Linked DNA regions of Homo sapiens. The protein of the gene in region 2 purifies or fractionates together with the protein of the main gene of each other region. This does not show direct contact. Each region holds a gene or a part of one and is shown on either strand. Other genes may lie near its edges.

Region 1 (7,035 bases), about 160 Mb from region 2:
AGGCAAAACAATAAGAATAATAGAGAACCATTCTAGAAAGTCCAGCACTAAATAATAGGAGTTCTAGAAAAAGAATAGAGAAAGAAGTAATTAGCTCCTCCTTAGTTCTCTACTCAAAACTCTCCAAGGGGCCCTATATGTAACTCAGAGAAAAAGTCAGAATCTTTTCAATAAGGCCTACGTAGACTTCCCTGTTTAAAATTACAAGCTGCATCCCATGCATGCCATCTTTTCGTCTATTCTCTACCCCACCACAATTCTTACCACCTTCTCTACTCCATATTTTACTTAATGCATGTTGTTTACTGTCTCTATCTTCTGGTGGACTGTGAATACCGCAAGTTTAGAGACTTGACTACTTTTCTCACTACTGTATCCCAACTGTCTACAATGGTCCCTGGCGTACAGTAAATAATTAACAAAAAATTATTGAATTAATCCAATGAGTTTTAAAGGAAAATAAACAAGCCAAGTTACAGACAAAGGAACAAGAACAAGAATGGTATTGGTCTTCTAGTAATAATGGAAATTATAAAATAATAGGACAATAATGTCAAAGTTCTGCGAGAATGATTTTCAACCTACAACTCTATAATAATCAAGTGAAAGAGAATAAAAACATTTCCAAACATGCAAGGTCTTAAATTGACCTCCAATGCACTAAAAGAATGCTTCACCAAAACAGGGGAGTGACCAAAGAAAGAGAAAAACCACACCACTAATAGAGTAGAGGTCAAACAAATCCCCAGAATGATGGTGAATATAGATCCTAGGATGACTACTGTGTAGCAGGTTTCCAGAGCAATCAGTCCAGACTGAAGACAGTCAGAAGGCTCTTGGAAATAATCCTTTATGACTTGAAAGAATACCTAATGTATCTGAAAACACTGAGAGAATACTTACACAACTTGAGCAGAATTTGGGGTTGAATTACATGAGAATAGAAAACTAAGCAAATGAAAAAACAAGGCAATCATTAACTCCACAGAAAATAAAAACTTGGTCACAAAAGGAAAAACAATCTGCCTATTACTACATGGCTTGGCTATGAATTGTGTTAACACAGCTATGACAATGACTACTGAACTAACCAATTTAACATTTACCCATATGGGGAAAATTGGGGGACAAGTAGGGAAAGTGTGTGTTGTGTATATGCAGGGAGTGCTGATGTGAAAAACAGCTAAAAATTCAGCGTCAATAGATCAGAGTTAACAGATAATACCTAAATCTGAAAAACCTATAATTAGAAATATAAACATTTCTTAGAGATTTCTTAGAGATTCAGAGTTAAATAAAAACTTCAGCTAAAAGATTTGAGAGTGATTGTCTTTGTGGGTAATGGTAGTGGTGTTGGAGAAGTTTTTTCTGAAGAGCCTTGTAAAAATATTTGACTCTTTAAATCAGAATTATATATTACTGATATTATAAATTAAAATAATTTTAAAAGAGCACTAAAACTTTCAAGAGACACATATCAGTTTATAAGTATATGGCTTTTAATTCTATTTTAGGGCCAAGTGAAATATTTTTTTCATAGTTGACTTCTAAAAGGTAATTGTATCCTTTTAGGGAGGCAATACATCCTGCTATGAATGGCTAAAACATACCTGTTTGCTTGTTGGTGTGAGTTTTTCTTCTGGAGACTTTGTACTGAATGTCAATAAACTCTGAAAAGAGAGAATTAATGATGCAAAAGACAAACTGTAGAGTGCAAATCTAAACAAGGTGTTACAGGGTGTTAAAAAATGAGAAGGTCAAATTTTTCACTTTGATATATATATTTGACAACAGAAAAGGAATAAAAGATTTAAACCTATTTAATAACCACGATGAGAGTTACAAGATTATGTCTGAGAGATACTTAAGAAATGGTAATGAATAAAAAATATAACTGACAGACAAAACTCAAGCCACCATTTTAAAAATTGCAAATCAAACACTGAAAAAAAAAAGAAAAAGAAAAAAGAATCATGCAATTTAAAGTATTTTAGTTGTCTTCTGCTTTTTTGCTGTCACAGAGTTAATACAAGCAATACCTAAGGAACCTCAAAAGTGTGGGGTAAAACGGTAATACATTTACATTAATAATGCTGCTGTACTGAGCATATTAGACAATTTTTTGGGAAATAATCCTTTAATGAAGCTGTTTCACCTAGAAACAAACTCACACCAATAGTCATGGGCTATTAGTCTAAAATTCCATGTACAAAGTGATCGCCTTTTTTGAGGGAGGCAGTTACCTGTGATTTTGTTAGGAAGTAAAACTGGGATCTATTTAGCCACTGGTAAGCTTCTGAGGTGAAGGATTCAGGGACATCTCGTGGAACAAACACTCCCCACTGGACTTTCTCTCTGGAGATACCCTTTTGAATATACAATGGCCTTGGCTCACTAGGTTTAAATACAAACACTAGAGGGAAAAAACAAAGAAACAATAACATTTTGCCTGAAAAGGTTAGTTCTAGCCTCAGACTGGCAGATCACACTAATCCTGGGACTCACCCCATTGAGTAACTGGCCCAAGTCATGACTGTTTTAGGCTTTGATTCAAGAGGTATCTACTGTGTTCCTACTATGGGCCAGGCAGGTTAGGAATGAGGGCTATGAGGATGAAAAACAGAAAGAAGAATTCGTGCTCCAGAGGCCAGGGCCCACTGCAGAAGACAGAAACCAAAATATTATTACAGTAGTATTTTGTCTGTAAGTACTAGAAATGAGATATGTAGAAACTGCTTCAAGAACATAGAGGATGACCAATTAAAGCTTCTCAGGGGCAGTTGGAAATATGTCAAACTGGTGAAATCTCTTGAATTTTAAAGATTGAGTACGAATTGGCTTGTGGAAAAATAAGAAACATATTGGAGCTCTCCTAGAACTAAGTATGGACGCACACAATGACAAAGTGTTGGGGCAAAGAAGGGCCGTGCCTCAAGCAAAATGGCTTCCAATTAACATCTGATGTGAAGGCAAGTTTGGCTCAAATTATATTAAGAAGAAAACTTAGGTCATAGATGTTCTCTTACTACAAAGTGTGGTTTGTACTTACAGTCTGAACCCACTGAAGACTGAGAGATTGCAGCAATATTCTCTGAATTAGGATCGGGTTCCATAACTCTAACATTTAATTTTGCATTCCACTCCACTGAGGGGAAAAACAAAGGTGATTCACTTCTAAGGAAAGATTTACCAAAAGCTTTAAAAAACTTCTCTTATTCTTAGGAAGAGGAATCTTATGCTTCCAACTAACACACATGGAGACACACTGAAATGATTTGTAGAATGCTGCACTAAAGTGAGAGGCCGAAAGAAAAACATACTGGAACTGTAGTGCTCCTTGTACAAACTATGAAAAGATTATTATTTCATTGAAATTTATGTCTAGTGCTTTTCTGATGCTGCTAAATGTGTACAGTATGTTAACCAGAGTTAACTGTAAAGAATACTGAAAAAAGTTACCATACACATTCATTTATAAGCAGCTACTATGCCTTCCAAACATACACTCAAATGGGTAAAATGCCACTAAGTTCACATTTGTTAGGACTGTGATAGACTACATTTGAATTTAAGCTGTCAGGGATAATGTAGATTAGTAAGTATTAAAAATGAGCAGAAAACATTATTCAAATTGTTACGAGGATGGGGAATATGGAGGGCATCAGAAAGTCACACACACTGAAAACAGTAGAAAAAGGTAAGGATAATGGAAGCTGACGTACCAACAATTAAGCAGTTAATAAATAATGTCTATTACAGGCCCAGTATTCCAAATTTTGGTGGCATCATATGTCACGTAAAAAACTGACTATTCCAAGTACAGACCTGATGATATGATCCCTAAGTCCTAAAATGCCAAAGTTTAATGTCAACTCCTTATGCGCTTTGCCAGATCACTTTAGAGTAAAAAATATCTTACATGCACAGCTCAGCAGATTCCAACAGCAAAGAATGCCATTTTCAGTAGCACCAAGTAGATACTTTGAACACGTCAATCTCCCAAAGCAAAGGTGCCTAGATTAAAACCACAAGGAAGTTAGCAACAGTCAGTTCTAGCAAATTCAGTTACAAAGAACTGCAGGCTTCCAGCGGCTGTTCTATGTAATGCAGATTTTTATATAGACATATATATTTTTGTTTATAATTATCCTGAAGAAAAAAGTGTCTAAGGAGTACAAAAGGAAGGGTCTAGTTAGCTATTTCTTTAGGAAAACAGAACGGATGACCAATTCTTTAACACACTGTGCGGTATACCAATTTACATCTAACAGAGAAAATGTACATGAAACGTACAGTCATCTGACAAAAATCCTATTTACCAAGAAGAAGAAAACTTGCGATTTCAATTGTGAAGAAAGTTTTACAAAGTAAATTCAGAATCAGACATGCTGGGAATTAGAGACGATCTCATTAGGCATCTGATTCTGTCCTCAGGCCCAACTACCTGAAGCAGGACCTGAAAATGCTGCTGCTACTTTCCCCTGCACCTCTCGGAAACAATGAGGTTGGCGCATAACACGGTTTTTATGGGAATACACAGAAAATAAGAAGGTTTGGATCCCCTGAGGCTTATGTATAGCTTCTGTTACCATTCAGCACATCCATGAAAGTATTCCAAAGAAAAAATATGTAGGCCAAGAGTTAAATGTTAACCTGAATTTCAGAAATGTTGGCACAGTTTGTGGACTCAGAATTTTTGGCTTTCCAGCATTTTGATTAGCTGCTTGCCCCACTGACCTTCAGGCTACTTTTGGAGAGGGCATAAATGACTACTAAAGTTTTAAGACTTGTTTAAATAAGTTAAAAAATAGTACTACATACTTCCCGAAGATTTACCTACCTTATTTTCCCAGCTCGTTGGCAAAATGTACATTTAAGTTCCCATGTTACAGAATCCCATATTGTGACTATTTCCTCAAAACTAACTGCTAGTAAAGAACCATCTTCGGAGAAACAACAGTTAGTTGCTTGATACTTGTGATAACTACCAACAAAGTCACAGGTCCAGCCAACAGCTTTTTCTGTGGAAATATAAGCCATAATGTTCAGAAATTGTGTAAATGCTAGAGAATGCTACAGTAGTTCCCCCTAGTTTCCCATTATCTGAGGGTTCACTTTCTGTGGTTTCAGTTCCTAGGGGTCAACTGAGGTCTGAAAATAGCTGTGTACAGTACAAAAAGATATTTTGAAAGAGAGAGAAAGGCAGACACAGAGCATGCACATATTCACTTTTTATTACAGTATATTATTGTAATCATTCTATTATTAGTTATTAACCTCTTACTGTGCCTAATTTATAAATTAAACTTTATCTCAGGTATGTATGTATAGGAAAAAAACAGTATATACAGGGTTCGGTACTATCTGCAGTTTCAGGCATCAACTGGGGCGGGGGGGTCTTGGATTGTATCCCCCACTGTTAAAGGGAGACTGCTAAATGAGGGACATTATAAGCAGTAGGGATTAAGAAACAAAGATGCACACACAAATAACAAATAAAATAAAAAAGAAACAAAGACACAAAACAAGAAAACCTGTTCCCCACAACTTCTTTAAGTCAGAACTGCTACAAAATACTGACTGTTCTGAAATTTATGCCCTCTCCTGGAGACCTTGACCTCCCTCTAGTGGAGGAGTGAAAGGACTCTTGGTAAAAGCCCCTTTTACTTTACCCTAAAAAAACAGAATAATCAGCACATGATTAATCAAGAATGCCATTTAAAAAGAACAGATTTGAGGAAAAAGGCATGTAAAATGTAATCTCTTAAATCTATTAAGATTAAGCAATATCCTGTAGAATTCAATAAAGTAGAAAATGTCCTCCCAGGATGGATACAAGTCATGAGAAAAAGAAATTAATTCCTAAAATTGTGCACACTTTAAACATAACATATTTAATAACTTACTGTATATGTCAGAGTCATCTGTTAATATCCATACTTTGAAGTAACCATCTTTGCTAGCTGTAACCAAGGTGGGCTGTTCAGATTTTTCTGCATTACAGAAACAGAGAGCTGTAATGCAGTCTTCGTGTGGCATGTTAATTTTAGTGTTAAGAATAAACCTAGCGGGAAGGAAACCACAAATTTATTCTTGCATGAGGACAAAGTGATGTATATAAGAATTTCTGACATGCTGTACATTTTACAATAGCATCTTGAACAACAGGCAACTGATAATCACGTAGAATGACAAACAATTGAGTGCTCTACCTCTAATGGCCACAGGACGCAAAGAGTTCTAATATATCACCTTTGCCCTTGTGTGACTTTAGAGAACATTCTGTGTAGTAGTCAACCCACTAGTACATTGGTACAAAATGAGGATAATACAGGTCACCAATCAATGATACTCAAAAGCCTACTGTATCAAACTCTGTAGGAAACTTGTATAGAACCCAGATTCCTGCCTACTTTTGAAAATAAAAAATGGAAAGGCCGTGAAACGCCCCACCTGGGGCAAGGAAAAATAGACAGGAAACTACTTAGTCAAACTGGCTGGTCATTATTTACTATTTTTAGTCACCTAAATGACTTCTTAAAGCTTATTTCGAGCTTAGAGGGCAACGCTGTGAATGAAAGACAACTAGGACTGTGTTCTTAAAAGAACATCAAGGCAGCATAGGATTGTGATTTTAAAAAAGCACAAGTTATAACAACAGTGACTAGGGACAACCACTTAATCTCTCTGGGCCTGTTTCTTCACCTATAAAATATAGACAACAGGCTTATCTTACAGTGTTCTTTTGAAGAGTAAGATAATGGGTACAAAGCTCTAAGCCAAGTTCTTGGCACACAGCAAAGATCTGTTAAGTGGTTATTATAGCCACAGTACGAGAGTGGATTCCTTATCTAATCACAACATCCATGCTACATTATACTATGCTACACTTCTACCTACACTCCCTCTTTTCAAAAGGCAGTATGCTGTTAACGGAAGAGCAAGGGAACATTTGGATTCTAACCCTGGATTTGCCTAGAATTCGGTATTATGCCCTTGAGGAGGTGTCACTTTTCCATGTTTCTTTATTCATTA
Region 2 (7,688 bases):
CCCCTACATCTCTACTAAGAATGTTTTGTTGCTGTTGTTGTTTTGAGACAAGACCTTGCTTGGTTGCTCAGGCTGGAGTGGAGTAGCAAGATCACTGCTCACTGTAGCCGTTACCTCTCTGGCTCAGGCGATCCTCCCACCTCAGCCTCCCAAGTCGCTGGGACCACAGGCACACTCCATCACACCTGGCTAATTTTTAATTTTTCTGTAGAGATGGGGTTTCTCCATGTTGCTTGGGCTGGTCTCGAACTCCTGGACTTAAGTGATCCTCTTGCCTTGGCCTCCCAGAGTTCTAGGATTACAGGAGTGAGCTGCTGTGCCTGGCCTAAAAACGCTTTTGAAGGCACCAATGACCCTGATCTTCCCAGTCTACTAGTTAATTCTTAGTTTTCATCTTTGCTGCATTTGACGTGGCTTTATCATGTCTTGCTTCTGAAATTATAAAAATTTGGTTTCTGGGTCACCTCCTTCTCCTGGGTTTTCATTGTGCCTTGCTGTTATCTCTTCTCAATCTCTTCTGCAAAATCCTCTTCCTCTCCCTGACTTCTAAAGATTGGCACAGCTTGGGACTAAATTCTTTTCTACCTATACTAACACGCAACATGATCTTTCCAGTCCCGTGGTTTCATATAGCAGCTGTATGCTAATGCATCCCAAATTCATATCTCTAACTGTGATGTTTTCTCCAAATCCCAACTCATATATCTAACTGCTTATTGAACAACCCTACTTGAATGTATAGTAGGTATCTCAAACTTAACTGTCCAAAACTGATTACATTCTAGTCAGGGAAGTAGATAATAAACACATTTAAAAATGAATCTCTAGGCTGGGTGCAGTGGCTCACGCCTGTAATCCTAGCACTTTGGGAGGCTGAGGCAGGCGGATCACCGGAGGTCAGGAGTTCAAGACCAGCCTGGCCAACACGGTGAAACCCCGTCTCTACTAAAATGCAAAAATTAGCTGGGCATGATGGCGGGTGCCTGTAATCCCAGCTACTCGGGAGAGTGAGACGGTAGAATCACTTGAACCCAGGAGACGGCGGTTGCAGTGAGCAGAGATCGTGCCACTGCACTCCAGCCTGGGTTGCTGAGTGAGACTCCATCTAAGAAAAAGAAAAAAAAAAATCTTTATTTCAGCTAGTGCAAACTGCTACAAGGAGAAACAAAGCCAGAGAAGGGAAATGAGAGCTTAAGTATTCGAAGGAATTAGGCAAAGCCTCACTCTGGCTCTGCAAGGTCAGAAGGAAGGGCAGTCAGTGTGCAGAGAACAGCAAGTGCAAAGATTGATCTCCATTCCACCCAAAACTCTTTCCCCAATTTAGCTAATGGTATCACTATTCACTTATTTGCCCAGGCATCAGAGTCACTCTTCATTCATCTGTTTTCCTCACCCTTCACAGTCAATTCATTTAGCAATTCCTGTTGGCTCTAACTTCAGATTATATCTGGAATCTGATCATTTTTCGCTACCTTCATTGCTTTCATCAGAGTCCTACCAATCATTGTCCTTGTCCCGACTACTACTCCACAGCCTTCTACCTTGTCTTTCTGCTTTTATTCTTGCCTACAGACTTCATCTAGCAGCCAGGATGTCTTTCAATAATATAAATCAGATCATGTTATTTCATTGCTCAAAACTGCAGGGGGCCGGATGTGGTGGCTCACACCTGTAATCCCAGCACTTTGGGAGGCCAAGGCAGGAGGATTCCTTGAGTGCAGGAGTTCAAGATCAGCCTGGGCAACACAGAAAGACCCCACCTCTTAAAAAAAAACATTAAAATTCTCCAGTGGCTTATTTCTATCATACTTATAATAAAATCCAAATACTTCACTCTGATTTACAAGGTACTAAATAGTCTGGCTCCCTCTGAACTCAGCTGCTACCTTTGATTTTTCTAGTTGTCACTATCTACCCTAAGTTTCTCCAAAGCTTTTTCTTTCCACTAGTCAAGGTCTTTGTTGCCTCAGTCTTTGCACTTGCTATTCTCCCCAGGTTGACTGCTCTTCCTTCTGATATTGCATGGTCTGAGTGAGGCTGTCCCTAATTCCTTTCAATACTTAAACTCTTTTCCCTCCTCCGGCTTTATTTCTCTTTATAGCAGCTTGCACTAGCTGAAATAGAGTTTTCTTTGTTTGTTTATTATGTGCTTCCCTGATTAGAATGTCAGCTTCATGAAAGCAGGAATCTTGTCTCTCATGATCACTGGTAGATTCCTGGTACCCTAAAACAGTGCCTGGCACATAGCAGGCATTCAGTTTGTTTGAGTAACTGAATGAATCCAAGTGCCAAATTAGATGTCTCAAATTTAGCATTCCCAGACTAAAGACACTATCATCTTCTTGCACAAAAATCTTCCAGGATTCACTATCCTAAGTGAATTGGGTCACCAACCAGTCTCTCCCTGTAAAAGCTCAATGAGTAATCCTTGGCCGTTTCTCTATCTCTCCCTTGGCCACTTGAAATCCGGCTCATTGTACATAATAAACACTCTTGAAACTTCCTTGCATCGCTATTTCTCCAAGCCACTCACCATCATCTCCACCTGGGGTTTCGAGCCTCCAACCTAGCTTCCTTCTAATACATTCATTACACTGTCTCCATGTAATCTTTCTAAAATGCAAATATTGGTCAGGCACAGTGGTTCACGCCTATAATCCCAGAACTTTGGGAAGCTGAGGCGGGCAGATTACTTAAGGTCAGGAGTTCCAGACAAGCCTGGCCAACATGGTGAAACCCCATCTCTAATAAAAATACAAAAACTAGCCAGGCGTGGTGGCACACGCCTGTAATCCCAGCTACTTGGGAGGCTGAGGCAGGAGAATCACTTGAACCGGAAGGTGGAGGTTGCAGTGAGCTGAGATTGTGCCACTGCACTCCAGTCTGGGCAGAGTGAGACTCTGTCTCAAAACACAAAAACAAACAAGAAAACAATAAAATGCAAATCTTACCATGCTGCTCCGTAGCTGTAAAAGCTTGAGCCTTCCCATGGCCATGAGAGTGGTTTTTATCTTTCCTGGCAGGCAATAGGCTCTGTGTGGGCTGAACAGTACCTAGCATTCCTTGAATTAGAATGCATTGATTTGGTGAATATTTAGGAGAAATATAAAAATCTACCCTTTATTTTTTGGATACAGGATCTCACTATGTCACCCAGGGTAGAGTGCAGTGGAGCAGTCATAGCTCACTGTAGCCTCGACCTCGTGGGCTCAAGCCATCCTCCTCCCTCAGCCTCCAGACTATGGGCGTGTGCCTAAAAATGTCTATTTGATGTAGCAACATGAGATAAATCTGGAGAAACAGGAGGGAATAGTTGTTCCGATCATTACTTTTACATTATTATAACTGAATACATTGTTATTTTGTAAATGATTACAGCCTGGAATTGAATAGGGGGAAACGGAAGCAGTTGTTACAATCATTATCAATTTGAAAGTGAAGACTTCTTTTCTCTCTCTTTTTTTTTGAGACAGTCTCGCTCTGTCACCTAGACTGGAGTGCAGTGGCGTGGCGATTTCGGCTCACTGCAACCTCCACCTCCCGGGTTCAAGGAGTCTCCTGCCTCAGTCTCCCGAGTAGCTGGGACTACAGGCACACACCACCACACCCGGCTAATTTTAGTATTTTTAGTAGAGACAAGGTTTCGCCATTTTGCCTAGCTTGGTCTCGAACTCTGACCTCGGGCGATCTGCCCGCCTCGGCCTCCCAAAGTGGGATTATAGGTGTAAGCCACCGCGCTCGGCTGAAGATTTCCTTCAAACCTTTCGTTCTACCTTATCATTTTCTTTAAAGTTTTAAAAAATTGTTATTTATTTATTATTTATTTTTTTAAGACGGAGTTTCACTCTTGTTGCCCGGAGTATAATGGCGCGATCTCGGCTCACAGCAACCTCCATCTCCCGAGTTCAAGCGATTCTCCTGCCTCAGCCTCTCGAGTAGCTGGGATTACAGGCGTGCGCCACACGCCTGGCTATTTTTTTTTTTTTTTTTTTTTTTTTTTTTTTTTTGAGACGAGTCTCGCTCTGTCGCCCAGGCTGGAGTGCAGGGGCGCGATCTCGGCTCACTGCAATCTCCGCCTCCCGGGTTCAACCAATTCTCTGCCTCAGCCTCCCGAGTGGCTGGGATTACATACAGGTGCCAACCACCAAGCCCGGCTAATTTTTTTGTATTTTTAGTAGAGACGAGGTTTCATCATCTTGGCCAGGCTGGTCTTGAACTCCTGACCTTATGATCCACCCGCCTCGGCCTCCCAAAGTGCTAGGATTACAGGCGTGAGCCACCGCGCCCAGCCCACGGCTAATTTTTTTATTTTTAGTAGAGACGGGGGTTTCTACATGTTGGTCAGGCTGGTCTCGAACTCCGACCTCAGGGGATCCGCCCACTTCGGCCTCCCAAAGTGCTGTGATTACAGGCGTGAGCCACCGCGCCCGGCCCCCCCCCTTTTTTTTTTTTTTTAAAGGAACAGGACTTGATCTTAATTCTACAATTACTTTCTCCCATACTCCCACTCCCGCCCAGAACAAGATAGCGACAGGCCCTAGCGGGCCACCGTCCACAGGGCGGATCCGCCAGAAGCTCTCCTGCGACGCGAAGATCCACTCCCTGAGCCCCCGGCGCTCCCTCCGCCTCACTTCCTCCTCCAGGCTCCGCCCCGCGCCGGTGCGCCTGCGCACGGACGAACACGTGGCTGCAGCGGGGCCAGAGCAGCAATGGCGGCGGGCGGCGGCGGTAGCTGCGACCCCCTGGCCCCTGCTGGGGTCCCTTGCGCCTTCTCCCCGCACAGCCAGGCCTACTTCGCTTTGGCCTCTACCGACGGTCACTTACGAGTATGGGAGACGGCCAACAACCGGCTGCACCAGGAGTACGTGCCTTCCGCGCACCTCAGTGGTACCTGCACCTGTCTGGCCTGGGCGCCAGCGCGGCTGCAGGCCAAGGTAAAGCGAGCGGGACTGCGCGGGGCGGGCGCCTTCCCGGGCTCGGCTTCGGGCCTCCGGGCCGGGTGGCGCGTGGTCCGGCATCGCGCGTGGCTCTCAGCGGCCCGGGCCAGAAGGCTTGGAGGCGGCGTCGGCGCGTTCAGGGCCCAAGCCGCCAGCCCCGCGTGCGGCCTGCCGCGAGGGCAGTGAGGGAGGGCGCAGCTCGACCCGGCCGGCCTCGTATCCGAGCCCTGCCGGCTGGCCCAATGAGGCCTGGGCCCCACTGTTGACGGGCAGCCATGTTCGCCAAGTCCCCTGGTCCCCCTGGGGCGGCTTCCTTCTGCCGGGCCTTGGCTCATCAGAGTTCTGGTTTTTGACAGAGCCCCATCTTGGGACTATCTAACTTTCCTCTGTCTGTGATCCGGCTCATCAGTTTTGCACTGGGCAGTTGGTATGGACTAGTCTGTACTTGCTTCCGGACCTTCCCCCTCCTGCCCCCCCTTTGGGTGCCGGCTCACCACGTGTTCTCGTCCCCGTCCAGGTTGTGGGACTCTCAACTCTTAACTTTTGCCTTTCCCAGGCACCTCTACATTCTCAGCTTTTTGAACTCACTGCTTTTTGATTTTAACATCTGCTCGCCCCTCCCGCCCCGCTTTCAAGCCGATCACACTGCTCCCCACCCACCCCAATCTGAAGTCTGTATTAGGATGTGGAGGTTAAGTGAAGTAGTAGCTTGATTTAGTGAATGTTTTATGAGTGCAGATGAAATTACCCTTAGATGGAAAACTGCCGAGTTAGGCAGAGCTTTTCATTGTTAGGGACCCGTGTCAGGTAAATGCCTTTCACTGTTGAGTCACTCAGCTACATCTCTCTAACTCAGCATGCACGTGGTTATTGCGTTTACAGAGTAGCCAAACCGAATCACTGCAAAGTGATTTGGAAACATCAGGTATCCTGAGGTGTGTGATGTGAGCTGTTTCAATGTGGAGAACTGTAAAAGCTATTTAGGATCTTACTCTCTCTGACGACCTGGGAAGCCTGCTAAATTTTTGGGTTGGGAAAAGGGATACATATAAGTTGCTATACTTTGGGCATGTTTAGATATTTTTCAAATTTTAAGCTACATTTTCATAGTTTATCCTGTTGATTCATAAAATAAACCTATCAGGGCTTATAAGTCAAACATAAAACTAAAAAAAAAATCAGTTTTTATTGTTAAAATTACAGCGCTCTGCTTATCTTTTATTTTCAAAGTTTTCTGTGGTTGTATTTTAACAGTCCTGTAAAGTGATAGTAATACTAATGCTGAGAGAAATACGGAGCAGTGGTTAGGTAGGTGCGTGGACCCAAGCTGGCTATATTGTCTATATTTGATTCTAGCCTCTGCTTCATAGTGGTAATTGCCCCTCTGGTTCCTCATTTATGAAATGAGGATAATAATATCTTCTTCATAGAGTGGTTGTGAAGGTTAATATATTTAATAATGCAGAGAACACTTAGAATAGTTCTTGACAGGTAAGTGCTTTAAGTGTTAAGTATTATTAATATCTGATATTTGTGTGGTTAGTCCTGAAGTGTTGATAAGGAACTTTCTGCCTTGTTTCGGGGAAAGAAACAGAAACTCTGGGAAACTAAGCAACTTGAATAAAGTAAAAAATGGAACCAGGATTAGAACTCAGGTCCTTAAGAGCTCGGTTCTTGGTTATCTGCAACAGATAGTTAATATTAGGTTGGAAAAAATGTCACCCACTTTGCTTTTCTGTTGAGTTTCAGTTGCATTGTATGCCCAAGAGAAATTTCCTAATCTCATATTAAAAGTCATAGTTTTGGATTATGTGCAACACTATGGTAAACTAGAAAAATAACTGGATTTGGTTTCATAGCCCAGACTCAAAACTTACTTTGTCATATTGAGCAAGTTGTTTTAATTTTGAGGACCTCATTGACAAACGAGAGTTGAGCTACATTAAACAAAATTTTTTTCTAGGTTTCAGCATCGTTTTATCTGCACTGTCTCCTTTTAACCACATGACTATGGAATCCCCTGAAATTAATTGCATTTTAAAAAAACTGATTGAAAATCAGAGCTAAGAAAGGTAAATGACTTGACTCAAGCCTTAATAACCAATAAAGGAGTGTGGCCTCTAGAGTCATGGTGCCCCGAACTCCTGGTCAAGTGCCCCGATTTTGTTACTCTCAATCTTGAGTCACAGAACTGAGAGAGCTGGAAGGAATGTAGAGACATTCCCTACTTTGAGGGTGTGTCCTCTTGGAGCATCAGTTTGACTTATAAACTAAGGAGAGACAGTTTTCTTGTATTAAAACAAACTTGCACATATATTATGGTATAAAATTAAAAAGTCATATGTACTGTAACAAGATATCTTAGAAAAAAAAGGCACATGTTAAGGTGCTCTCATCTTATTAAACCCTTCCTTTTATTTTACATCTTTGAGGCTTAGTGTATGAGGCATGAAAAGGATGTTGCTCTGAACCCACTTTCCAGCATTTTGTTAAGGTCCTGCTATATGATGACATATAGTACTCTCAAATTTGAAATAGAGGTATCATCACCCACCTTTTAGGATCCTCAGGATCAAATTAGGCAATGTATGTGACTGGTGTAGTATGGCCTAGTATGTAATAAGTGGCTTAATAAATGTTATTATTGAGTGAATCTGGACTCGTTTTACCATTTAATTTGGCATTTAATATGGTAAATCAATTTGTAAGAAAAGTATTCTATGTTTGGTTTAGTAATTGGCAGTTTGCTAC

The links.
Region 1: the proteins of WDR43 (region 2) and WDR75 purify together in Homo sapiens (affinity purification with mass spectrometry; 2 studies listed by BioGRID and IntAct, with this or other methods). This does not show direct contact.

The regions. Positions count from the first base shown.
Region 1 is NC_000002.12:189,465,454-189,472,488, reverse strand, and holds part of WDR75 (WD repeat-containing protein 75), read right to left. Parts: intron 6,065-7,035; coding exon 5,907-6,064; intron 5,022-5,906; coding exon 4,841-5,021; intron 4,015-4,840; coding exon 3,920-4,014; intron 3,146-3,919; coding exon 3,050-3,145; intron 2,414-3,049; coding exon 2,244-2,413; intron 1,671-2,243; coding exon 1,611-1,670; intron 1-1,610. UniProt on the Homo sapiens protein: Ribosome biogenesis factor. Part of the small subunit (SSU) processome, first precursor of the small eukaryotic ribosomal subunit.
Region 2 is NC_000002.12:28,889,990-28,897,677, forward strand, and holds the start of WDR43 (WD repeat-containing protein 43), read left to right. Parts: upstream 1-4,677; 5' UTR 4,678-4,709; coding exon 4,710-4,934; intron 4,935-7,688. UniProt on the Homo sapiens protein: Ribosome biogenesis factor that coordinates hyperactive transcription and ribogenesis. Part of the small subunit (SSU) processome, first precursor of the small eukaryotic ribosomal subunit.